3 separate regions of the Homo sapiens genome follow, and all the other regions are linked to region 3. Evidence: fine-mapped expression QTL. A gene starts in region 3. Each other region holds a variant in brackets. All regions are shown on one strand. Distances are between the middles of the regions. Region 1 has its middle 6.9 kb from the start of EIF3G. Region 2 holds the start of DNMT1 (DNA methyltransferase 1). Region 3 holds the start of ANGPTL6 (angiopoietin like 6).

Region 1 (8,179 bases), 24 kb after region 3:
TGTAAATCTTCAACAGCACATAGATATGCAGATATATGCAAATCATTTCCTGGAAAGAAAGAATCAGAACCTGTTAATGAGGAATGCTTTGGAAAGAAGGCACCAAGAAAGGAAATATTATTTTTGGACATGTATTAATATATAATATGCATTTATGTAATATATGTGAGATGTAACATATAAATATATTTCTTGGCTGGGCACTGTGGTTCGTGCCTATAATCCCAGCAGTTTTGGAGGCCAAGGCAGAAAGATTTCTTGAGCCCAGGAGTTCAAGACCAGACTAGGCAACATCATTGAGACCCCATCACTACACACAAAAAATTGCTGGGTGTGGTAATGCACGCCTGTAGTCCCAGCTACCTGGGAGGCTGAGGTAGGAGGATTGCTTGAGCCCAGGAGGTCAAGGCTGCAGTGAGCTATGATTGTGCCATTACACTCTGGCCTGGGTGACAGAGCAAAAACCCTGTCTCTAAAAAAGAAAGAGGCTGAGCACAGTGGCTCACGTCTGTAATCCCAGCACTTTGGGAGGCCAAGGCAGGCAGATGACCTGAGGTCAGGAGATCAAGACCAGCCTGGAAAACGTGGTGAAAACCCATCTCTATTAAAAATACAAAAATTACCTGAGCATGTTGGTGCATGTCTGTAATCCCAGCTACTCAGGAGGCTGAGGCAGGAGAATCGCTGGAGCCCAGGAGGTGAGGCTGCCATGAGCCAAGTGCTGGGATTACACAGGTGTGAGCCACATCAAGGTTTGGGTGCAAGAGTACATCTGGTTATAGATTACAGAAGCATAATACCCTGACCCCATTAGATGTTATTTTATGTGTAGGAAAAGGTTTGAACCAGGTCCTTTTTTTTTTTTTTTTTTTTGAGATGGAGTCTCACTCTGTTGCCCAGGCTGGAGGGCAGTGGCACAATCTCGGCTCACTGCAAGCTCCGCCTCCTGGGTTCACGCCATTCTCCTGCCTCAGCCTCCTGAGTAGCTGGGACTACAGGCACCCGCCACCACGCCCAGCTAATTTTTGTATGTTTAGTCGAGATGGGGTTTCACCGTGTTAGCCAGGATGGTCTTGATCTCCCGACCTTGTGATCCGCCCACCTTGGCCTCCCAAAGTGCTGGGATTACAGGTGTGACCCACCCGTGCCCGGCCCAGGTCCTTTTTTTCTTTTTTCTTTTTTTTTTGGGGGACGGAGTCTTGCTCTATTGCCCAGGCTGGAGTGCAGTGGTGCGATCTCAGCTCACTGCAACCTCCGCCTCCTGGGTTCAAGCGGTTCTCCCGCCTCAGCCTCCTGAGTAGCTGGGATTACAGGCATGCACACCACCACACCCGGCTAATTTTGTATTTTTAGTAGAGACGGGGGTTTCTCCATATTGGTCAGGGTAGTCTCGAACTCCCGACCTCAGGTGATCCGCCTGCCTGGGCCTCCCAAAGTGCTGGGATTACAGGCATGAGCCACCGCACCTGGCACGCCTTTTTTTTTTTTTTTTTTTTTTTGAGACAGGGTCTTTCTCTGTCACCCAGGCTGGAGTGCAGTGGCACGATCACAGCTCACTGCAGCCTCAACCTCCCCAGGCTAAGGTGATGCCCTTGCCCTGGTCTCCCAAAATGCTGGGATCACAGGCATGAACCACCGTGCCCAGACTCATTTAAGGAATATAGTGACTCGGGCAAGGGACATGGTGTGCCCTGTGCTCTGTCCTGTTTTGTCTTCAAAGCCTTGTTCTGTAGAGCTGCGCAGACGTGTCTCACGTGTCTCAGAGTCAGGGGCTTTGTGAAATTACGCTGGAAAGCAGAATTGAGCAAACCCAGCTTAACATTAGTTACTTTTTCTCACATTTTCACAACAAAATATCACAGACTAGGAGGCTTAAACAGCACACATTTATTTTCTCAGTTCTGGAGGCTGGAAGTCCAAGATCACAGTGTCGGCAGGGTTGGTTTCTTCTGAGGTGGGGGCACCTTCTCCCTCGGTCCTCACGTGGCCTCCTCTGTGTGTGTCTATGTCCCAATCTCTTCTTCTAAGGACATCAGTCATATTGGATTAGGGCCCACCCTAATGACCTCATTTAAACTTTTTTTTTTTAATTATTTTTTTTAAAGGTGAAGTCTCACTCTGTAGTCCAGGCTGGAGTGCAGTGGTGCAATCTCAGCTAATGGCAACCTCCACCTCCTGGGTTCCAGTGATTCTCCTGCCTCAGCCTCCCGAGTAGCTGGGTCTACAGGCATGTGCCACCACACCTGGCTAATTTTTGTATTTTTGTATTTCTAGTAGAGACGGGGTTTCACCAAGTTGGCCAGGCTGGTCTCAAACTCCTGATCTCAAGTGGTTTGCCTGCCACGGCCTCCCAACGTGCTGGGATTACAGGCATAAGCCACCACACCTGGGTTTAATTTTCTCTCTAAAGGTCCTGTTTCTGCTGGGCACAGTGGATCACGTCTGTAATCCCAGCACATTGGGAGGCCAAGGTGGGCGGATCCCTTGAGGTCAGGAGTTCGAGACCAGCCTGGCCAACATAGCGAAACCCCTGTTGTCTACTACAAATACAAAAATTAGCCAGGTGTGGTGGCAGGCATCTGTAATCCCAGCTGCTCGGGAGGCTGAGGCATGGCAATCCCTTGAACCCGGGAGGCAGAGGTTGCCATGAACCAATACTGCGCCACTGAACTCCAGCCTGGGCGATGGAGTGAGACTCCTTTTTTTTTTTTGAGATGGAGTTTTGCTCTTGTTGCCCAGGCTGGAGTGCAGTGGCATGATCTTAGCTCACCGCAACCTCCACCTCCCGGGTTCAAGTGATTCTCCTGCCTCAGCTTCCCTAGTAGCTGGAATTACAGGCATGTGCCACCATGCCCAGCTAATTTTGTATTTTTAGTAGAGACGGGGTTTCTCCATGTTGGCCAGGCTAGTCTTGAACTCCAAACTCAGGTGATTCGCCTGTCTTGGCCTCCCAAAGTGCTAGGATTATAGGTGTGAGCCGCCGCACCCGGCCAAGACTTTGTAAAAAAAAATAAAAATAGGCCATGCGCGGTGGCTCACACCTGTAATCCCAGCACTTTGGGAGGCCGAGGTGGGAGGATCACTTGAGGTCAGGAGTTCGAGACGAGCCTGGCCAACATGATGATACCCCATCTCTACTAAAAATACAAAAATCAGCTGGGTGTGGCCAGGCATGGTGGCTCACGCCTGTAATCCCAGCACTTTGGGAGGCCAAGGTAGGTGGATCACCTGAGGTTGGGAGTTCGAGACCAGCCTGACCAACATGGAGAAACCCTGTCTCTCCTAAAAATACAAAATTAGCTGGGCGTGGTGGCGCATGCCTGTAATCCCAGCTACTCAGGAGGCTGAGGCAGGAGAATCGCTTGAACCCAGGAGGCAGAGGTTGTGGTGAGCCGAGATCCTGCCATTGCAGTCCAGCCTGGGCAACGAGAAGGTAACTCTGTTTCAAAAGAAAAAAAAAAAAAACAGCTGGGCGTGGTGGTGCGTGCCTGTAATCCCAGCTACTAAGGAGGCTGAGGCAGGAGAATCACTTGAACCCAGGAGGCGGAGGTTGCAGCGAACCAAGATTGCGCCATTGCACTCCAGCCTAGGCAACAGAGACTCCATCTCAAAAAAAAAAAAAAAGTAAATAGAGATAAAAAGAAAGAAATACTAAATTGATGGACATGCAGATGTGGTAACAGCCAAAAAACAGGGGCAGAAAGGAGACGTGGCAATGTCCTTACTGTGGTTTTTCTAGGGAAGTAGATGGGCACCTCAGCCTTACATGTTTATTTCATTTAAAAAACAGCCTTCC[A/G]CTATGAACTATGGTATGGTGGTTCCTCAAAACATTAAAAATAGAACCACCAAATGACCCAGCACTTCCACATCTGCTTTATACTTACAAGAATTGAAATCACTGGAGACCAGCCTGGGCAACAGAGTGAGACGCCATCTTTACAAAAAATAATCATATATTAAAAGGAAAAAAAAAGAAGCCAGGCACGGTGGCTTACACCTGTAATCCCAGCACTTTGGAAGGATGAGGAGGGACGATCATTGGAGCCCAGGAGTTTGAGACCAGCCTGGGCAACATAGCAAGAACTCATCTTTACTAAAAATAAAAATAAAAATTAGTTAGGCGTGATGGTACATACTTGTAGTCCCAGCTACTCCAGAGACTGAGGTTGGGGGATCTCTGGAGCGAAGGAGTTCGAGGCTGCAGTGAGCTATGATCGCATCACTGCAGTCCAGTCTGGGTGAAAGAACAAGACCCTGTCTCTAAAAAGAAAAGACAAGGTTTCTAATTCTTACACCAAAATACATCCTCAAGTTGTTCTTGGTGAAGGATCGTATACCTGAAAATGTGACCACTGAAAAAGTGGGATTAAAAACAAGGAAATTCAGGCCAGGCGCGGTGGTTCACACCTGTAATCCTAGCACTTTGGGAGGCTGAGGCAAGCGGATCACCCGAGGTCAGGAGTTCAAGACCAGCCTGGCCAACATGGTGAAACCCCATCTCTACTAAAAATACAAACATTAGCTGGGTGTGATGGCCCATGCCTGTAATCTCAGCTACTCAGGAGGCTGAGGCAAGAGAATCCCTTGAACCCAAAGATGGAGGTTGCAGTGAGCAGAGATCGCGCCACTGCACTGCAGCTTGGGTGACAGAGTGAGACTCCATCTCCAAAAAAAAAAAAAAAAAGGAATTCAACAAGTTGGTTAGATTCAAAAAACACAGTTTACAAAATCACAGCCAATACAAATGGAGCATCTCTCCATAGGCAAAGGACCATGGTTTAGAAATCAAGAAAACATCCCATTTATATTAGTAATGAAGGGACTAAATACTTAGGAATCAAGTTATGAAGTCTGCAAGATCTGGATGAAAAGCTGTGGACACAAAGGAATTCCTGAACAAACAGGACAAACCCTGTTCTTAGAAAGGAAGGCTTGTCATTAACATGTCAATTCTTCCAGAAGTCTGCAAAGTTAATGAAATCCCTATAAAACACCTGCTTGACTTTTAGCGGCTGTGCCAGTTCTAAAGTTTCAATCCAGTCATTCAACTCCTAGAAAAGTAGCCTAGACGTGGATACACATGTGTATACAAATCTATGTCCAGCCATCCCTCGGTATCCCCAGGGGATTGGTTCTAGGACCCCATGTGGTACCAAAATCAGAATGTGCTCAAATCCCTAATATAAAATGTCATAGGCCGGGCATGGTGGCTCACACCTGTAGTTCCAGCACTTTGGGAGGCTGAGGCGGGTGGATCATTTGAGGTCAGGAGTTCAAGACCAGCTTGACCAACATGGTGAAACCCCGTCTCTACTAAAAATACAAAAAAATTAGCCGGGCGTGGCGGCACATGCCTGTAATCTCAGTTACTTGGGAGGCTGAGGCAGGAGAATCACTTGAACCCGGGAAGCAGAGGTTGCAGTGAGCCAAGATTGTGCTACTGCACTCCAGCCTGGGCGACAGAGTGAGACTCTGTCTCAAATATAAAATAAAATAAAATAAAATAAAATGGCATAGTATTTGCATATACGCTACACATATTCTCCTGTGTACACTACTTTTTGACAGAGTCTTGCTTTGTCACCCAGGCTAGTGCAATCTCGGCTTAATGCAACCTCCACCTGCTGGGCTCAAGTGATCCTCCCATCTCAGCCTCTGGAGTAGCTGGGACTACAGGTGTGTGCCACCATGCTCAGCAAATTTTTGTTATTTTTTGTAGAGAAGGTGTTTCGCCATGTTGGCCAGGCTGGTCTTGAACTCCTGGCCTCAAGTGTTCCTCCTACCTTGGCCTCCCAAAGTGCTGGGATTACAGGCATGACCCACTGCGCCCGGCCTCTCCTGTGTACTTTATGTCGTCTCTAGATTATTTGTAATACCTGACATAACGTCTACACGTTGCTTTATTCTCATGGATTCCATGTAGTACTTGGTAAGTGGCAAATACAAGTTTTGCTTTTTGGAACTTTGTGGAATTTTTCTGAATATTTTAAATCTGTGGTTGGTTGAATGCCAGAGGTGGAACCCTTGGATACAAAGGCCTGACCTGCATCACAATTCAATCTACTGCTCTTGAGACTGTAGTTGTTTCCAAACAATATAAAGAAAAAAAGTTCAAATAAAGGCTTTCTAAGAGATTTATTGTATAACATAGTGAGTATAGTTAATATATTCTTGTCCAGGCGCAGTGGTTCATGCCTATAATCCCAGCATTTGGGGATGCCAAGGCAGGTAGATCGCTTGAGCCCAGGATTCTGAGACCAGCCTGGGCAACAAAGCGAGATCCTGTCTATAAAAAAATATAAAAATCAGCTACCAGGCATGGTAGCTCATGTCTGTAATCCCAGCACTTTGGGAGGCCGAGGCAGGCAGATCGCTTGAGCCCAGGAGTCTGAGACCAGCCTGGCCAACATGGCGAAACCCCATCTCTACTAAAAACATAGAAATTAGCCAGGCCTGGTGGCAGGCCTGTAATCCCAGCTACTCGGGAGACTGAGGCATGAGAATAGCTTGAACCCAGGAGGCAGAGGTTGCAGTGAGCCAAGATCGCACCACCGTACTCCAGCCTGGTGACAGAGTGAGATTCCGTCTCAAAAATAAATAAAAATAAAAATAATGATTAGCTGGGTATGGCGGCACATGCCTGTGGTCCCAGCTACTACAGAAGCTGAGGTGGGAGGATCACGTGAGGCCAGGAGTTTGAGACCACCCTGAGCAACACAGTGAGACCCCATCTCCACAAAAAAAATGTAAAACTTAGCTGGGCATGGTGGCATGCGCCTGTAGTTCCAGCTACTCAGGAGGCTGAGGCAGGAGGATCACTTAAGCCCAGGAGATCAAGGCTGCAGTAGAACATCGCTGCACTCCAGCCTGGGCAACAGAGCAAGATCCTGCCTCTAAAATATATATATATTTTTTTTAAAAAGGACAAAACTGATACACATATTAATGACATGGATGAATCCCAAAGGCATTTATGCTGAAAGATCTGAAACACAAGAGCCCATGCTGGCCTGAACAGGCAGGTGTCATCTATGGAGACAAAACTGGATGGGAGGCTGCCCAGGGACTGGGAAGGGGGAGATCAAGTGGGAAGAGGCACAAGGTGACCTGAGGTGACAGAGACATTCTCTATCTTGATAAGGATATAGGCTACAGTGCTATGTTCACTTCTCGAAATTTAAGCTGAACATTTAGGACTCGCATATTTCATATTCTACCCCAATTTTCAAAAATAGAGGAACAAGAGAGATTCCTAGGTAAGACAACCTTCGAGGTGCAAGACAGTTTATTTTTTTTTCGAGACAGTCTCGCTTTGTTGCCCAGGCTGGAGTGTGGTGGTGTGATCGTGGCTCACTGCAGCCGCCGCCTCCCAGGTTCAAGCAATTCTGCCTCAATCTCCCAAGTAGCTGGGATTACAGGCATGTACCACACCTGGCTGATTTTTGTATTTATACTAGAGATGGGGTTTCACCCTGTTGGCCAGGGTGGTCTTAAACTCCTGACCTCAGGTGATCCACCTGCCTGGGCCTCCCAAAGTGTTGGAATTACAGGCGTGAGCCACCGTGCCCGGCCCAAAGCAGTTTATTTTTGAGACAGGGTCTCGCTGTGTTACCCAGGCTGGAGTGCAGTGGCACAATCTCGGTTGCAGTGAGCCGAGATTGCTACTGCAACCTCCACCTCCTGGGCTCAAGCGATTCTCCCACTTCATGCTCCTGAGTAGCTGGGACTACAGGCACGTGCCACCATGTCCCACTAAGTTTTGTAAAGGCAATCTTAATAGACACTATCACCAGGCGTGGTGGCTCACGCCTGTAATCCCAGCACTTTTGGAGGCCAAGGTGGGTGGATCACCTGTTGTCAGGAGTTTGAGACCAGCCTGGCCAACATGGTGAAACCCCATCTCTACTAAAATTAGCTGGGCGTGGTGGTAGGCGCCTGTAATCTCAGCTACTCGGGAGGCTGAGGCAGGAGAATCGCTTGAACCCAGGAGGCGGAGGTTGCAGTGAGCCAAGATCATGCCATTGCACTCCAGCCTGGGCAACAAGACCACAACTCCATCTCATTTAAAAAAAAAAAAAAATTGACACTATTGGCTGGGTATGGTGGCAGATACCTGTAATCTAGCACTTTAGGAAGCCAAGCGGGAGGATCGCTTGAGGCCAGGAGTTTGAGACCAGCC
Region 2 (8,179 bases), 91 kb after region 3:
ACGGCCTAGTCTAATAACTTTTACACATACTAGGAAACCAAAATGTGTGTGTGACTCACTTTCTTGCTAGATTCACTTTACTGCAGTGGTCTGGAACCAAACCCACAGCATCCCCACTGTACACACAGTACCACGTAATAACCAGTGATGAAGGGCTTTGGACAGGTGCTGCTCTCAACATATCTGTACTGATAAGCTCAGTCTTCCTAACACCCCTGTCGAGCAGGCAGCCCCACCCCCTTTTTATAGATGAAACACCAAGGCACCAAGAAGTTCAATAACTTAGCCATACGGCTGGCAAGTAGGGCGGCATTTGAAACCCAGCAGTCTGTACCCCTAGAATTCTACCACAGGGGAGCAAAACAAAAGAGGTAAGTCAATTTTGCCTTATTCAGTATGTACTCAGTAGTAGCCAAGGAACTGGAGTTAAGGAGTTCAAGACCTAGCTTAATCCCATCACAGAATGACTAGCAGTAAGAAAGCTGTGGTAGTTACGAAAGCTAATCAGTTGTGCAAAGGAGTCTGCTAGCATCAGTGTTAATCCAGGCTGTACAGGGGAAGAGCTGGCATGCAAGCATTTGAGTCTACTGTGCTCCAAGCTGCAGATACAGTGAATACGGCAGACACGCTCTGGTAACAGACCCTGAAATAATCACTAATTTCAGTGTTATAATGGCACCATGCGGGATACACCGACAAAATTCAACACTCTTTATTGTGGAGAAGCAAGCCTAGCTGTCTGAGAGCAGGCTTAAGAATGAATTAAAAGGCCAGGCACGGTGGCTCATGCCTGTAATCCCAACACTTTGCGGGGCTGAGGCAGGCGAATCACTTGAGTCCAGGAGTTCAACACCAGCCTGGCCAACACGGTAAACCCCGGTTTCTACTAAAAATAAGAAAAAGTTAGCCGGGCGTGGTGGCACATGCCTGTAATCCCAGCTACTCAGGAGGCTAAGGCAGGAGAATCACTTGAACCCGGGAGGGGGAGGTTGCAGTGAGCCAAGTTCGCACCACTGCACTCCAGCCTGGGCGACAGCACAAGACTCTGTCTCAAAAATAAAATAAAATAAAATAAAATAAAATAAAATAAAATAAAATAAAATAAAATAAAAACAATGAACCGGCTGGACACCATCATACCTGTAATCCCAGCATTTTGGGAGGCTAAGATAAGTGGATCACTTGAGATCAAGAGTTTGAAACCAGCCTGGTCAACATGGCAAAACCCAGTCTCTAATAAAAATACAAAAATTACCTGGGCTTGGTGGCGGGCGCCTGTAATCCCAGCTACTTGGGACACTGAAGTAGGAGAATTGCTTGAACTCGGGAGGTGGAGGTTGCAGTGAGCCGAGATCACGGCCACTGCACTCCAGCCTGGGCGACAGAGCAAGGCTCAGCCTCGAGGGGGAAAAAGAAAAATTAGCTGGGCGTGGTGGTGCACACCTGTAATCCCAGCTACTTGGGAAGCTGAGACAGGAGAATTGCTTAAACCCGGGAAGCGGAGGCTGCAGTGAGCTGAGATCACACCATTGCACTCTAGCCTGGGCCACAGAGCAAGACCCTGCCTCAATTAAAAAAAAAAAAAAATCTAAGTTTCAAGTACTGTTGGATACCATGTTTATTTTTCATTTAATGAAATATTTTCAAAATGTAAAAAAAAAAAAAAAAGTCTGTGGAGTGAGTCATATAAACTACAATTTCAATGTCTACCACATGGTCAAAAGCAGTCCTCCAAAACTCCAATGCCTACAGTGAAGCAATCTGAGTGTAAAGAAATGTGGAACCCAGGGTCAGTGGTGGATTGTAAGGCTCACCTAATGGTATTCCAATTCAGCCAAACAAAATATTTGCACAGGGCCAACAGAGCCCCTGAGCCAGTGGCCTACTGGCAACCCCTGTTGAAGGGAAAGGCTTTGGCAAGCAGCAGACCTTAGCAGGAATTCCTGCTTCCTGGCAGTTAACTCCTGCAGCATCCACTTTTAAGAACTCTTGAGGAATAATGGCCGGGCCCTGTGGCTCACGCCTGTAATCTCAGCCCTTTGGGAGGCCAACGCAGAGGATTGCTTCAGTCCAGGAGTTCAAGACCAGCCTGGGCAACAAAGCAAGACCCTCATCTCTAAAAAAAAAAATTTTTTTTTTTTCTGAGACAGAGTTTCGCTCCTGTTGCCCAGGCTGGAGTGCAACGGTGCAATCTCGGCTCCTGGGTTCAAGCGATTATCCTGCCTCAGCCTCCCGAGTAGCTGCGATTACAGGCACCTGCCACCATACCTGGCTAATTTTTTTGTATTTTTAGTAGAGATGGGGTTTCGCCACGTTGGCCAGGCTGGTCTCAAACTCCTGACCTCAGGTGATCTGCCCATCTCAGCCTCCCAAAGTGCTGGGATTACAGACGTGAGCCACCGCGCCCAGCCTTCTAAAAAATTTTTTAAGGATTAACTTGGGCATGGTGGCATGTGCCAGCCACTCAGGAGGCTAAGGCAGGAGGATTGCTTGAGCTCAGGGGTTCAAGGCTGCAGTAAGCCATGACTGTGCCACTGCATTCCAGCCTGGGTGACACAGTGAGATCCTGTCTCTTAAAAAAAAACTGAAAAAAACAAGCTAAGTTAGCCACTAGCATGTGAACCTTTATGTGCCATGCATATTCTCATTTAACCCAATACCAGCTGAAAACCCATGTCATTATTCCTAGACTATGGATATAGAGGTGGCATACGCTTGTTTAAGGTCATTGAGCCAGTGGAGGTCATGTTTTCAAGAAGGCTGGGCAGGCTGGGCATGGTGGCTCACACCCGTAATCCCAACACTTTGGGAAGCTGAGGCAGGAGGATCGCTTGAGGCCAGGAATCGAAGACCAGCCTGAGCAACATGGCAAGACCCCATCTCTACAAAATAAAAAAAAGGAATAAAAAAGGAAGGCCGGGCCCAAACTTCTCTGAATTGGGTGTAACATCATGAAGCCAGGCACTTTCATAATTTCACTTCCATTCCATTTTAAATCAAGTTTTATTTTGGGAGAATACTGGCACAGATGATTCAAGAAGATATATACCCACTAACTGGTTAAGAAGTGGTTTGACTATAATCCCAGCACTTTGGGAGGCTGAGGCAGGTGGATCACGAGGTCAGGAGTTCGAGACCAGCCTGACCAACATGGAGAAACCCCGACTCCACTGAAAACACAAAAATTAGCCAGGCGTGGTGGTGTGCACCTGTAATCCCAGCTACTTCGGAGGCTGAGGCAGGAGAATCACTTGAACCCTGAAAGTGGAGGTTGCAGTGAGCCGAGATCACGCCACCGCATTCCAGCCTGGGTGAAAGAATGAGACTCCATCTCAAACAAACAAACAAAAAAAAGTAGTAGTTAAGGCATGATGGCTCATACTTGTAATCCTAACCTTTGGGACACAAAGGCAGGAGGACTGCTTGAGGGCAGGGGTTTAAGACCAGCCTGGGCAATATGGTGAAACCTCACGTATACAGAAACAAAAACTAAGAAAGTCATCTGGGCATGGTGGTGGGCGCCTGTGGTCCCAGCTACTCAGGAGGCTGAGGATCCCTTAAGCCCAGGAGTTCAAGGCTACAGTGAGTTATAATTGTGCCAGGGCACTCCAGCCTGGACAACAGAGTGAGACCCATCTCTAAAAATAAAAAGTGTTTCTTTTTTTGAGACAGGGTCTCACTCTGTCACCCAGGCTGGAGTGCAATAGCGCGATCTCAGCTCGCTACACACAGCCTCAACCTCTGGGGCTCAAGTGATACTCCCACCTTAGTCTGTTGAGTAGTTGGGACCACAGGCGCACGGCACTACTCCAGGCTAATTTTTGTATTTTTAGTAGACATGGGGTTTTGCCTTGTTGCCCAGGCTGGTCTCAAACTCCTGGCTCAAGAGATTCGTCCGCCACTGCCTCCCAAATTGCTGGGATTACAGGCATAAGCCACAGCACCCAGCCTTCAAAAAAAAAAAAAAAAAGAAAAGAAAAAAAGCGGGGGTTGAACCAAATATCCATCCCTCCCCAAAGACCCAAATCAGAACCGGACTGGCCCAACCAGGTCAGTTAACAAGCCTAAGGAAATAGAAAAATGGCAAAGAGTGCTTTCACAAATCCAGCTGGAAGTGTCCACGCCTGGTGAGGGTTCCTCTGACTCACGCACACCTCACTTGAACAAGTTTTCAGGAATGAACTGATGGCGTTCATGAACAAGGGGCTGGGACCAGTGCTCCCACTGATCCTTGTGCACGGAAGTTGGACAGAGGCATGAACTGCTAAAGCCAGGGCCTCCAACATTAGACACACACTAAAGAACACACCCATGAACACACACAAACACACACGAAAGTGTAGCCAGTTCTCATTAGCAAGACTTCCCTGATGCCCACGGCTCACAGGCACAGATTTACAGGAAAAGACCAACCATGCAGCCTTCACGCTTCCCGGGCCCTGCGCTGCAATGCACGGTTAAAGTTCCTGCCAAAACATGGACTTTCCCAAGGAGCAAGAACCACACAGTCCCAACTGACAGAATGAGTACCCCACGGAAGGCTGGGCTCTCGAACATGAGCCAGCCCAGCCCAGGCCCCGACGGGTGACATCCGTCTCTGGAGGCCGCCATCGAGATGCACAGCTTTGGGGGAAAGGCACTGAGGGACCCCCCACCACAGAAGCGCCCCCGGGGACCGGGCCGGACACCGGAAGTGGAGGCCGAAGTGCCGGTGCCCGAGGGGTGTCCGTTGGCCGCGGGCTGCCCACTTCCTGTGCGACCAAGCTGGAGTCAAGAGCCCGGCCCACCGCTGCTTGAAGAAGGGGACCCCGGAAACGAACCCAAAGCTTGCTGTATTTGGGGATCAAAAGAGAACCCCCACCCCGCCTAGTTTCTAGCCACCAGGGAGCTACG[G/A]GGGAATCCACGGTCCATTTTGGCGCCAAACAGCCCGGGCACGCGCGACCGGAAGTGCCACCCTGCCCGCGCCAACTGCCGCTGCGCGCCGCACCACCCCACGCATGCGCGCCCGTCTGTCAGCAGCGGCCACCGGCCACCCCGAGGGGAAGCGACCCCCCACCCAGCGCCCTGCCTGTCCCCCTGAGTCCGTGTTCCCCCCCATGGTACCTACCGCCTGCGGACATCGTCGGGCAGCGAGATGGCCGGGACGGCCAGTGTGGGCACCCGGGCTGGGGCGGTACGCGCCGGCATCTCGGAGGCTTCAGCAGACGCGGCGGCGGCAGCGCAGGCGCCCCGGCTTTTCGCGCGGAAACCGATGGGGAGGGGCGATGAGCGGAGGCGGCGTCTACCACCCCAGTCCGGGCGTGGGGGAGGAGGGGATGTACCAAACGGAGAGAGGCGATACCCTGTGCAGAAGGATGGAACGGAGCCGGCCATGCCCAGGGAACACGCATGCGCAAGGCGGGCACACACCCCCCCCACGCGGAGCAGTGGGCTCGTCCAAGCTCCACGGTTTGCTGGGAGGTGGGCACGGTGCCCGAGGCATTCATTCATTCATTCTTTCAGGTGTGATGGGGATAAAGCAGCGAGAAGCCCCCAAGGGTTTGTGAGAGCCCTTGAGTAAAGTCCTCAGTTCCAATCCAACCTCCATCTATTTGCTGGCTATACGACCTTAGGTGGGTCACTACGGCTCAGCCTCTGTGTCCTCATCTGTAAAACGGGGTAATTGCACCTACTCTAGAAAATCTTGAGTATACACAGAATTTGTAGCTAGTACCAAGAATCTCACAGTGTATAGAGGCCCATGCCACTTCTATACCCAGTGTGTGGGGGGTTTTTTGTTGCCTTTTTTAAGCACCACGTGGCTCACGCCTGTCATCCCAGCACTTTGGGAGGCCAGGGTGGGAGGATCGCTTGAGCCCAGGAGTTTTAGACCAGCCTAGGTAACATAGAGAAACTGCATCTCAAAAAAAAAAAAAAAGAAAGAAAGAAAGAAAGAAAAAAAGAAAAACAAAAATTAGCTAGTCGTTGTGGCATGTGCCCATAGTCCAAACTACTCCAGAGGTTGAGGCAGGAAGATCACTTGAACCGGAGAGGCAGAGGTTGCAGTGAGCCATGATTGTACCACTACATTCCAGCCTGGGAGACAGAGCAAGACCTTGTCTCAAAAAAATAAAAATAAAAAGTAAGAATAAATTAAGAAGCACCATGTCAGGCGCAGTGGCTCACGCCTGTAATCCCAGTGCTTTGAGAGGCCCAGGTGGGAGGATCGCTTGAGGTTAGGAGTTCAAGACCAGCCTGAGCAACATAGGGATACCCCATCTCTACAAAAAATACAAAGATTTGCTGGGCATGGTGACACACACCTGTAATCCTAGCTACTTGGGAGGCTGAGGTGGGAGGATGGCTTGAACCCTGGCAGTGTAGGCTGCAATGAGCCATGATTGGGCCACTGGACTCCTGCCTGGGCGACAGGGTAAGACCCTGCCTCACTCTGTCACCCCGGCTGGCGTGCAGTGGTGAGATCTTGGCTCACTGCAACCTCTGCCTCCCAGGTTCAAGCGATTCTCATGCCTCAGCCTCCCTAGTAGGCTGGGATTACAGGCGTACTCCACCACGCCTGGCTAATTTTTGTATCTTCGGTGGTAGAGACAGGGTTTCACCATGTTGGCCAGGCTAGTCTGGGACTCCTAGCCTCAAGCAGTCCACTTGCCTCAGCCTCCCAAAGTGCTGGGATTATAGGCCTAAGCCACCGTAACCAGCCAGAATTTTTTTTTTTTTTAAAGCACCAGAACATGGGGGAAAGATTGTGTCTTTAACAAATGGTGCTGAGAAAACTGTATAACCACATACAAAAGAATGAAGTTGGACCCTTACCTTACACCATATACAAAAACACAAAACTTATTAAAGATTAAACATAAGACCTGAAACTATAGTGCTCCTAGAAGAAAACATGGGGAAAAGCTTCATGACAATGGATTTGGCAATGATTTCTTGGATATGACAGCAAAACACAGGCAACAAGACAAAAGATAGACAAATGGGTTTGCAACAAACTTAAGGATAGCTATACAGCAAAAGAAATGACCAACAGTGAAAAGGCAACCTACAGAATGGGGAAAAAAAAAGTTTGCAAACTGTATTATCTGGTAAAGGGTTAATATCCGGAATATATGAAAAATTACAGCCAGGCATGGTGGTTCATGCTTGTGATCCCTGCACTTTGGGAGGCCCGGGTAGGCAGATCACTTGAGCCCGGTAGTTTTAGACCAGCCTGAGCAACATGGCAAAACCTCGTCTCTACCAAAAAAAGAAGAAAAAAATTATATAAAAAATAAATTACTACCCGTCAGGCTTGGTGGCTCACGCCTGTAATCCCAGCACTTTGAGAGGCCAAGGCGGGTGGATCACCTGAGGTCAAGAGTTTGAGACCAGCCTGGCCAACATGGTGAAACCCTGTCTCTCCTCAAAATATAAAAATTTGCTGGGCATGGTGGTGTGCCTGTAATCCCAGCTACTCGGAAGGCTGAGGCAGGAGAATCACTTGAACCTGGGATGCGGAGGTTGCAGTGAGCCGAGATTGCACCATTGCGCTCCAGCCTGCGCAACAAGAGAGAAACTCTGTCTCAAATAAAAATTTAAAAAATAATAAATTTCTACAATGCAACAACAAAAACTCGATTTACAAATGAGCAAATGGGCTGGGTGCGGTGGCTCACACCTGTGATCCCAGCACTTTGGGAGGCCCAGGCGGCAGGCGGATCACGCGGTCAGGAGATCGAGACCATCCTGGCTAACGTGGTGAAACCCCATCTCTACTAAAAATACAAAAAATTAGCCAGGCGTGGTGGCAGTCGCCTGTAGTCTCAGCTAATCAGGAGGCTGAGGCAGGAGAATGGTGTGAACCCAGGAGGTGGAGCTTGCAGCAAGCCGAGATTGCACCACTGCACTCCATCCAGCCTGGGCAACAGAGCGAGACTCCGTCTCAAAAACAAACAAAAAGAGCAAATGATTTGAATACATACTTTCCCAAAGGAGATATGCAAATAGAAAACAGGCATATGAAAAGATGCTCAACATCACTGGTCATCAGGGAAATGCAAATCAAAACCACAATGAAATATCCCTAAGACCCCTTAGAATGGCCACTGTCAAATAATAAGTGTTGGTGAAGATGTGGAGAAACTGGAACCCTTGTGCACGGTTGAGAGTCGAATAAAATGGTGGAGCTGCTATGAGA
Region 3 (8,179 bases):
GAGAGCAAACCCTGTCTCTTAAAACAAAACAATAACAAAAAACAGCAAACTAGGTAAAGAATACGCAGGTCTGTGCAGGGGCAGCTTGAGAGGGGGTTGCCTAAAGGGAAGGCCTGGTGGAGGAGCAGATCTAAGTGCAAAAGCTCTGAGACTGGACCCTGCCTGATGTATTAAAGCAACCTGGGAGAGGTTAAAGCAAAAGCGAAGGGAGGCTGGGTGCTGTGGCTCATGTCTGTAATCCCAGCAGTTTGGGAGGCCAAGGTGGGTGGATCACCTGAGGTCAGGAATTCGAGACTAGCATGACCAACATAGTGAAACCCCATCTCTACTGAAAGTGCAAAATTAGCCGGGTGTGGTGGTACAGGCCTGAAATCTCAGCTACTTGGGAGGCTGAGGCAGGAGAATCACTTGAACCTGGGAGGTGGAGGTTGCAGTGAGCCGAGATCGCACCACCGCACTCCAGCCTGGACAACAAAAGCAAAACACTGTCTCAAAAAAAAAAAATAGCAAAGGGAGCAGGGTGCAAGGAGGTGAGGTGGGGTGAGGGAAACGTCTCACTAACTGCCTTCCCATCCGTCGGATATTGGAAACCCCATCTTCCACGTCCTCAGACCAAAACCCCAGCAGATCCAACCCATCTCAGCAGATCTAATCCATCAGCCAGACCCGTCTGCTCTTCTGCTTAGATCCTGAATTCCTCCACGTCTCCGCTACTCCCCACTGCCCCCAGACCCTCCCTGAATTCCCAGCTCAAGACACCATCTGGATGACAGCAGCTGCCTCCCTGCTCTCTGGATTTCCATCCTCAACCCCAGGTCTAGTCTCTCTGACAGCAGCCAGAGGGCGCCTGTGAACATCTGAGTCAGTTCACGTCCCTCCCTCCCTCCTCTGCCCTGAATCCTTCTTGGCTCCCACCTCCTTTAGAGGAAAAGCCCAAATCCACCCATGATCCATAAAAAGTTGCGCTATCTTGGTGACTCACGCCTGTAATCCCAGCACTTTGGGAGGCGGAGGCGGGCGGATCACGAGGTCAGGAGATCGAGACCATCCTGGCTAACACAGTGAAACCCCGTCTCTACTGAAAATACAAAAAAAGTAGCCAGGCGTGGTGGCGGCTGCCTGTAGTCCCAGCTACTCGGGAGGCTGAGGCAGGAGAATGGCTTGAACCCGGGAGGCAGAGCTTGCAGTGAGCCGAGACTGTGCCACTGCACTCTAGCCTGGGCAACAGAGCAAGACTCCATCTCAAAAAAAAAAAAAAAAAAAAAAAAACTTGTGCTATCTGCCATATCCCCTTCTGCCCTCCTCCCAGGCCCTTCCTCACACGAAGCAAGTTCCAGCCTCAGGTCCTTTGTACCTGCTGTTTTTGCAGCCTGGAACATTGTTCACAACTTAACATCATTCCCTTCCTATCCTTATTCAAGTCTCAGCAGCGCTCCTTGAACAGCAGATTTAGGGTTGTACCTCCATATACAAGCTCTCTCTCTCTCTGTCTCTCCCTCTCTCTCTCTCTCTTTCTCTCTTTCTCTCTCTCTCTCTCTCTCTCTCCCCCACGCCCTCTTTTTTTTTTTTTTAGACGGAGTCTCGCTCTGCAATCTCAGCTCACTGCAACCTCCACCTCCCGGGTTCAAGTGATTCTTGTGCCTCAGCCTCCCAAGAAGCTGGGATTACAGGCATGCGCCACCACACCCAGCTAATTTTTGTATTTTTAGTAGAGACAGGGTGCCTGATCAACAGGTGAAATCCCGTCTCTACTAAAAGTACAAAAAATTAGCTGGGCGTGGTGGCGCATGCCTGTAATCCCAGCTACTCGGGAGGCTGAGGCAGAAGAACGGCTTGAACCTGGCAGAGGTTGCAGTGAGCTGAGACCGCACCACTGCCTTCTAGCCTAGGCAACCTGGGTGAGACTCCATCTCAAAAAAAAAGAAAAAAAAGAGAGAGTCGTGCTCTGTTGCCCAGGCTGGAGTGCAGTGGAGCAATCATAGCTCACTGTAGCCTCCAATTCCTGCACACAAGTGGTCCTCCTGCCTCAGCCTCCTGAGTGGTTGGAACTACAGGTGCGCACCACCATGCCCAGCTACTTTTTTGTAGGGAGGGGGTCTCACTGTGTTGCCCAGGCTAGTCTCAAACTCCCAGGCTCAAGTGATCCTCCCACCTTGGACTCCCAAAGTGCTGAAATTACAGATGTGAGCAACCACACTGGCCCTAAACCTATGCTTCCTGATGCCTGCACAAGCACATATCCCGAGGGTCTCCATCTCACACACACATTGCCTCATTCATGCATTCAACCACAGACACCTTGAGTGCCTATTGTGTGCCAGGGATGCTGTTTTAGGCAATGAGGACACAGCCTTAACCCAAACAGACAAAATTCCTGCCCTTGCAGAGCTGACATTCAAGTTGGGAGAACAGAGAAATAAGTCAAACAGCCGCTAGGTAGGTCAGAGGGTAATCGTGCTTAGGAGAAAAATGGAACAGGCAAGGGGGTGACAGTCCCGGAGGTGGGGGACATTTAATAGAGGAGTCAGGACTGGGTGTGCTGACTCACGCCTGTAATCCCAGCACTTTGGGAGGCCGAGGTGCCTGTAATCCCAGCACTTTGGGAGGCCGAGGTGCCTGTAATCCCAGCACTTTGGGAGGCTGAGGTGGGAGGATCACTTGAGGCCAGGAGTTTGAGACCAGCTTGGCTAACGTGGCGAAACCCTGTCTCTACTGAAAATACAAAAATTAGCCAGGCGTAGTGGCACGCGCCTGTAGTCTCAGCTACTCAGGAGGCTGAGACACAAGAATCACTTGAACCCGGAAGGCAGAGGTTGCAGTGAGCCATGATTGCACCACTGCACTCCAGCCTGGGCAATAGAGCGAGACTCTGTCTCAAAAAAAAATAAAATAGAGGAGTCAGGAAAGGCCTCACAGAAGAAGTGACACTTGACTGGAACAGTGCCTCATGCCTGTAATTTCAGCACTTTGGGAGGCCAAGGCAGGAGGATTGCTTGAGCCTAGGAGTTTGAGACCAGCCTGGCCAATATGGTGAAAGTCCATTTCTACTAAATATAAAAATAAAAATAAAATAAAGAATAAGGGACACTTTCACAAAGACCTGATGGAAGAGAGAGAAGAGGAAGAGCATTCCAGGCAGAGAGAACAGCAGGTGCAAAGGCCCGGAGATTGCACCCAAGAAATGGCAGAAAGGGGCCAGGCACGGTGGCTCACGCCTGTAATCCCAGCACTTTGGGAGGCCGAGGCGGGAGGATCACCTGAGGTCGAGAGTTCAAGACCAGCCTGGCCAACATGGTGAAACCCCGTCTCTACTAAAAATACAAAAATTAGCTGGGCATGGTAATGCATGCCTGTAATCCCAGCTACTACTCAGGAGGCTGAGGTGGGAGAGTCACTTGAACTCAGGAGGCCGATGTTGCAGTGAGCAGAGATTGCGCCATTGCACTCCAACCTGGGCGACAGAGCAAGGCTCAAAAAAAAAAAAAAAAAAAAGGCCAGGTGCGGTGGCTCACGCCTGTAATCCCAGCACTTGGGAGGCCAAGGCAGGTGGATCACGGGGTCAGGAGATCGAGACCATCCTGGCTAACACAGTGAAATTCCGTCTCTACTAAAAATACAAAAAAAAAAAAAAAAATTAGCCGGGCATGGTGGCGAGCGCCTGTAGCCCCAGCCACTCCAGAGACTGAGGCAGGAGAATGGCGTGAACCCGGAAGGCGGAGCTTGCAGTGAGCTGAGATCGCGCCACTGCACTCCAGCCTGGGTGACAGAGCGAGACTCTGTCTCAAAAAAAAAAAAAAAAAAAAAAAGAAATGGCAGAAATGTCTATGAGGCCGGAAGAGAGAAGGGGGAAGCAGGAGGAGGTAAGAAGTGTCAGGGCAAAGTGTGAAGGGTCCTGTGGGCCCGGAGGAGGACTTGGGTTTTACTCTGAGTCAGGCAGGAGCCATGGAGGGTTCTGGGCTGGAGATGGCCACATTTACTTCTGGACTCAGACACCAAGCAGGGGCTCACAAGGATCCGGGGGTAGGGTCCTCTCTTTGTCCCCGATCACTGACATGCCCCACCCCCCACAACAGAGATTGAGCAACCCCCCAGAACTGGGACGTGTGTATAACACCCGCTGCCTTTTACACTCTCAGCCTGGGGTGGCGGGGTGGCCTGGGGGCCCCCAAGCCAAGCTGTGGTCGGAGTTTCCCCACAGTGAGAATCAACCTCCACCTACCTTCCCACCCTCTCACCTCTGATGCCCAAGACCCTGAATCCAGCGAAGCTCACAGAACACACAAGAAGTCCAAGGAAGAGCCGAGGGTCCAGTGGGGCCTCTGAGCTAGAGACGGGGAGAGGGCAGTGGGACAGAAGGAGAGAGGAGGCTTGGTAACCACTCCCCAGCCCCCAGAGCCTGGGAGTGGAGCTGGGATGCTGGGCCCAGGAGCCCAAACTATAAATATTTAGCATTTCCCGAATGAGAAATGAGACAGAATTGCCAGACCCCCCTGCCCAGGCCACCAGAGCCTGATAACACAGGTCAGTGTCCTGGACATCCCTCCCTTTCCCCCACACCCTCCACTGCAGAGCCCAGAGCGTGGGAGGCTGCAGGCCCTGGGGCAGCCAGGCGTGATCCCAGCCCCAGACACGCACACACCACACATAGAAAGAGGAACATCACTGGGGACTTACCGTGTGTAGGGCTTGGCTCTAAACTCTCCACACCTTTTACGTATTTGATCCTTACAACCTGAGCTGGATTCTGTATGTACCCTCATTTTACAGCAGGGAAAACTGAGGCTCAGAGAGGGTAAGCAACTTGCCTGCGGTCACACAGCCAAAAAGAGACCAGGATGGGAGCCAGCCAAGGTAGCTTGACTCAGAAACTCACACATGTACACCACAGCTGTCACACACATATGGGCACATAACAGAGTGGACACAAACACACACACACACATTTGCACGCACGCACACATTAACACCCAGCGAAAGTCTGGGTGCAGTGGCTCATGCCTGAAAGCCAGCACTTTGGGAGGCCGGGGCAGGTGGATTACCTGAGGTCAGGAGTTCGAAACCATCCTTGCCAACATGCTAAAACCCCGTCTCTACTAACAATACAAAAATTAGCTGGGCATGGTGGCATGCGCCAGTAATCCCAGCTACGCGGGAGGCTGAGGCAGGAGAATTGCTTGAAGCCAGGAGGTGGAGGTTGCAGTAAGCCGAGATCGAGCAACCGCATGCACTCCAGCCTGGGCGACAAGACTGAAATTCCATCTCAAAAATAAATAAATAAATAAATAAATAAATAATAAATAAATAATAATAAAGTGAGGAATTAATTAATTAAAATAAAAAATAAATATAAAAGACACAGCTGTAAATTTTTAAATTGTGATAGAAACAATATATTCTTAAAGTGAAAACCCTACCTCAGTTACATGTGATTTATGTTTTTTGGATTAATCTGGATTTTATAATTAGAAATAAAAATGTAAGGCTGGGCGCGGTGGCTCACGCCTGTAATCCCAGCACTTTGGGAGGCCAAGGTGGGCAGATCACGAGGTCAGCAATTCGAGACCAGCCTGGCCAAGATGGTGAAACCCCGTCTCTACTAAAAATACAAAAATTTGCCGGGTGTGGTGGCCCATGCCTGTAATCCCAGCTACTCAGGAGGCTGAGGCAGGAGAATCGCTTGAACCCGGGGGGCGGAGGTTGCAGTGAGCCACTGCACTCCAGCCTGGGCGACAGAGTAAGACTCTGTCTCAAAAAAAAAAAAAAAAAAAAGAAAAGAAATAAAAATGTAAGATTTTGAGTCCACATAATTATTTGTTGAAAATAATACAAGTCAGTATAATAGAGAAGCATTCATATATTCAACACTGTGAGACAAAACACCAGAGACCTTGGATTTGATAATTGATCTGATATCCTGGACAGTATTCATATGTACAGTGATAGCTATCTTTCTTTGGTGTTTTTTTTGTTTTGTTTGTGTGTGTGGTGTGTGTGTGTGTGTGTGTGTGTGTGTGTAGTTTTATGGTTCTGAGTTGGTGGCCAGTAAGTTCCATGTAGTGTTGGCACTTATTTAATTAACTATTCATGATTTTGTTAATAGCTTGTTATAGAATTCAGGCATATATTTTTCAGCATAAGAAGCCAAGCACACCAGCTTGTCATTGGAGAGAATATATTAAGTGAGAAAAACATTCAGGAATCAGAGCTTTAACATGTTAAAGTTAGTGCTAAACATTGTCATATTGGATCTGAACCTATCCTAATATATAACCATAAAGCTTGACTTCTGCATTGGAACTATGCTTTCATAAATAAAGGATATCTCATTGATTAAAAAAAATTTTTAAAAAGACACAGCTGGAAACATAACAGTTTCAGGCAACAACTGTATGTTCCAAATATGGTCACACACACATCACAACTTAAAGGGAAATGGGGTGGGCTGAGTGGGTCTTTATCTGTGTGTCAGGCTTGTCCACATCCTGGTTCTTGTGATCACACAGTAGTGCACAGATACAAAACAGGTACACACAGTTGACACCCGGAAACCTATCCACCGCACCACAGAGGTCACCGTCTGTCTCCCACACACTCGGTCACATTTTCACACAAGTCAAATCACACGAGGACGGAACTGGGGGAAGTAACCATGCAGTCATTTCCCAGGGGTACAAAGAAACTCACATAGAGCCCCACAGAGCCCAGGCCCAGGGTCTGAGACCTGTCCAAAGGCCCCACCGACGACCAGCCACACGCCGGGAGAGTCACCTCCTTCCCCTGGTCTGCACCATCCTGAGCTCCCGAGTAACTCGAGTGGACTCCAGGGTTGAAAAAGGAAATGGTCGTCCCAGATCTGAGAGAGGCTGCCAGGCTGGGCTCTGGGCCTGGGTTGGGGCCCCCACACTGGGCCCCTCGGCCCCCCACCCTCAGCCCCCTCTGGCTTCCCCATTGGCAGTAGAGAGGGAGGGAACTTCATAAGTCACAGAGAGGGGCTGAAGAATACAGAGAGTCAGACAGATGGAGATGGGAGAGGCATAGGGAGATGGGAGAGACATAGGGAGATGGCAGAGAAAGGGAGAGACGGGGAGATGGGGAGAGACAGAGAGAGATGGGAAGATGGGGAGAGACCACAGGGAGGCAGATGAGAAGAAAGAAACAGGGATGGGGCCAGACACAGAGAAAGGAAACTTCTTTAGTTTCCATCTTCAGTTATAAATGATGAAAGAGACAACTGATGACAGAGACAAAGTTACAAGAGGGAGAAAGAGACAGGGGGAAGACGAGGGGGAGGGGAGACACATCTGGGGGAGAGGAGGAAGAATTGGGGTGCCAGAGAGAGCAAGGAGGGAGAGGAGGCCGATGGGGGAGGAGAGAGTAATGTTCAGCCCAGTGAGGGGGTGTCCCTTTCCCCCACTGCAAGGTTTTGGGGAAGAAGCCAGAGGCCTGAGGCCAAGACTGAGGCTTTGAGCGGAAAGAAGGAGGGGGCGAGTTATTCACGAAACGCCCGCCTTGCCCTGAGTTTCCAGAAGGTGATGTGGAGTTTCCATCCCTCAGCCTGTCTGCAGACAGGGGTACCCGGGGAGGACAGCTGGCCCAGAGGAGTTGCGAGACTAAAGTGAATGATTGCCACAGTCATTCCCTCCGGTGGCTTCTCCCCAAGTACTTGGCGCCAGAGCGCCCAACATTGTGCATACATGGTCGCTCCTAATTCGTGGGCCCGGGGGACATTATCAGCCTTACTTTGGGATATTTTAGGAGCCTCGGAATGCAGAAAGTGGTTTTAGCCCAGCTGGAGGAAATGGGCCGAAGCGGGATTCGAACCGGCGGATTCGTTTCTCTGCAGCCCGGAGCCGCGTAGCCCCGCCCCGGTCTCCCTAGAAACAGGCACCCGTGTCTCCATAGCAACCGCTCCATCTGATTGCCCCTCCCCGCTCCCAGAGGCCACCTAGTGCGCAGGCCCGCCTGATGTCGTCCCACGCCGTGCCGGCTCTCAGGCGCCGGAAGTGAGCTGCGCAGCGCCGGAAGCGGCGGACGCAGGAGGCCTCGTGGAGGACACAGCAGCATGGGACAGTCAGGGAGGGTAAGGCCCGGCAGCTTGGGAGGCAGGTGGCGCAGGTGGGGTCCCGGCCGAGGTCGCGGCGCTGACCCTTTGTCTCTCGTCGCCGCAGTCCCGGCACCA

Evidence for each region.
Region 1: its variant is fine-mapped to the expression of ANGPTL6 in whole blood (TOPMed, PIP above 0.99).
Region 2: its variant is fine-mapped to the expression of ANGPTL6 in prefrontal cortex (BrainSeq, PIP 0.91).

The regions. Positions count from the first base shown.
Region 1 is chr19:10,122,713-10,130,891 of GRCh38, forward strand. No RefSeq gene overlaps it. Among named protein-coding and RNA genes, the nearest start is that of EIF3G, 6.9 kb to the left of the region's middle. The variant A/G (reference allele first, on the strand shown) is at 3,797.
Region 2 is chr19:10,189,713-10,197,891 of GRCh38, forward strand. DNMT1 (DNA methyltransferase 1) reads right to left here and starts at 5,241. Exons shown (of 41, transcript NM_001130823.3): 1 at 5,108-5,241. The coding sequence starts at 5,187. RefSeq lists a silencer at 4,945-5,184 and an enhancer at 5,445-5,674. The variant G/A (reference allele first, on the strand shown) is at 4,894.
Region 3 is chr19:10,098,333-10,106,511 of GRCh38, forward strand. It overlaps ANGPTL6 (angiopoietin like 6), which reads right to left and starts at 4,346. Exons shown (of 6, transcript NM_031917.3): 1 at 4,236-4,346. It overlaps PPAN (peter pan homolog), which reads left to right and starts at 8,030. Exons shown (of 12, transcript NM_020230.7): 1 at 8,030-8,080; 2 at 8,169-8,179. The coding sequence starts at 8,063. It overlaps PPAN-P2RY11 (PPAN-P2RY11 readthrough), which reads left to right and starts at 8,030. Exons shown (of 13, transcript NM_001198690.2): 1 at 8,030-8,080; 2 at 8,169-8,179. The coding sequence starts at 8,063. RefSeq lists silencers at 891-940, 8,177-8,179 and enhancers at 4,356-4,405, 4,476-4,525, 7,667-8,179, 7,907-7,956.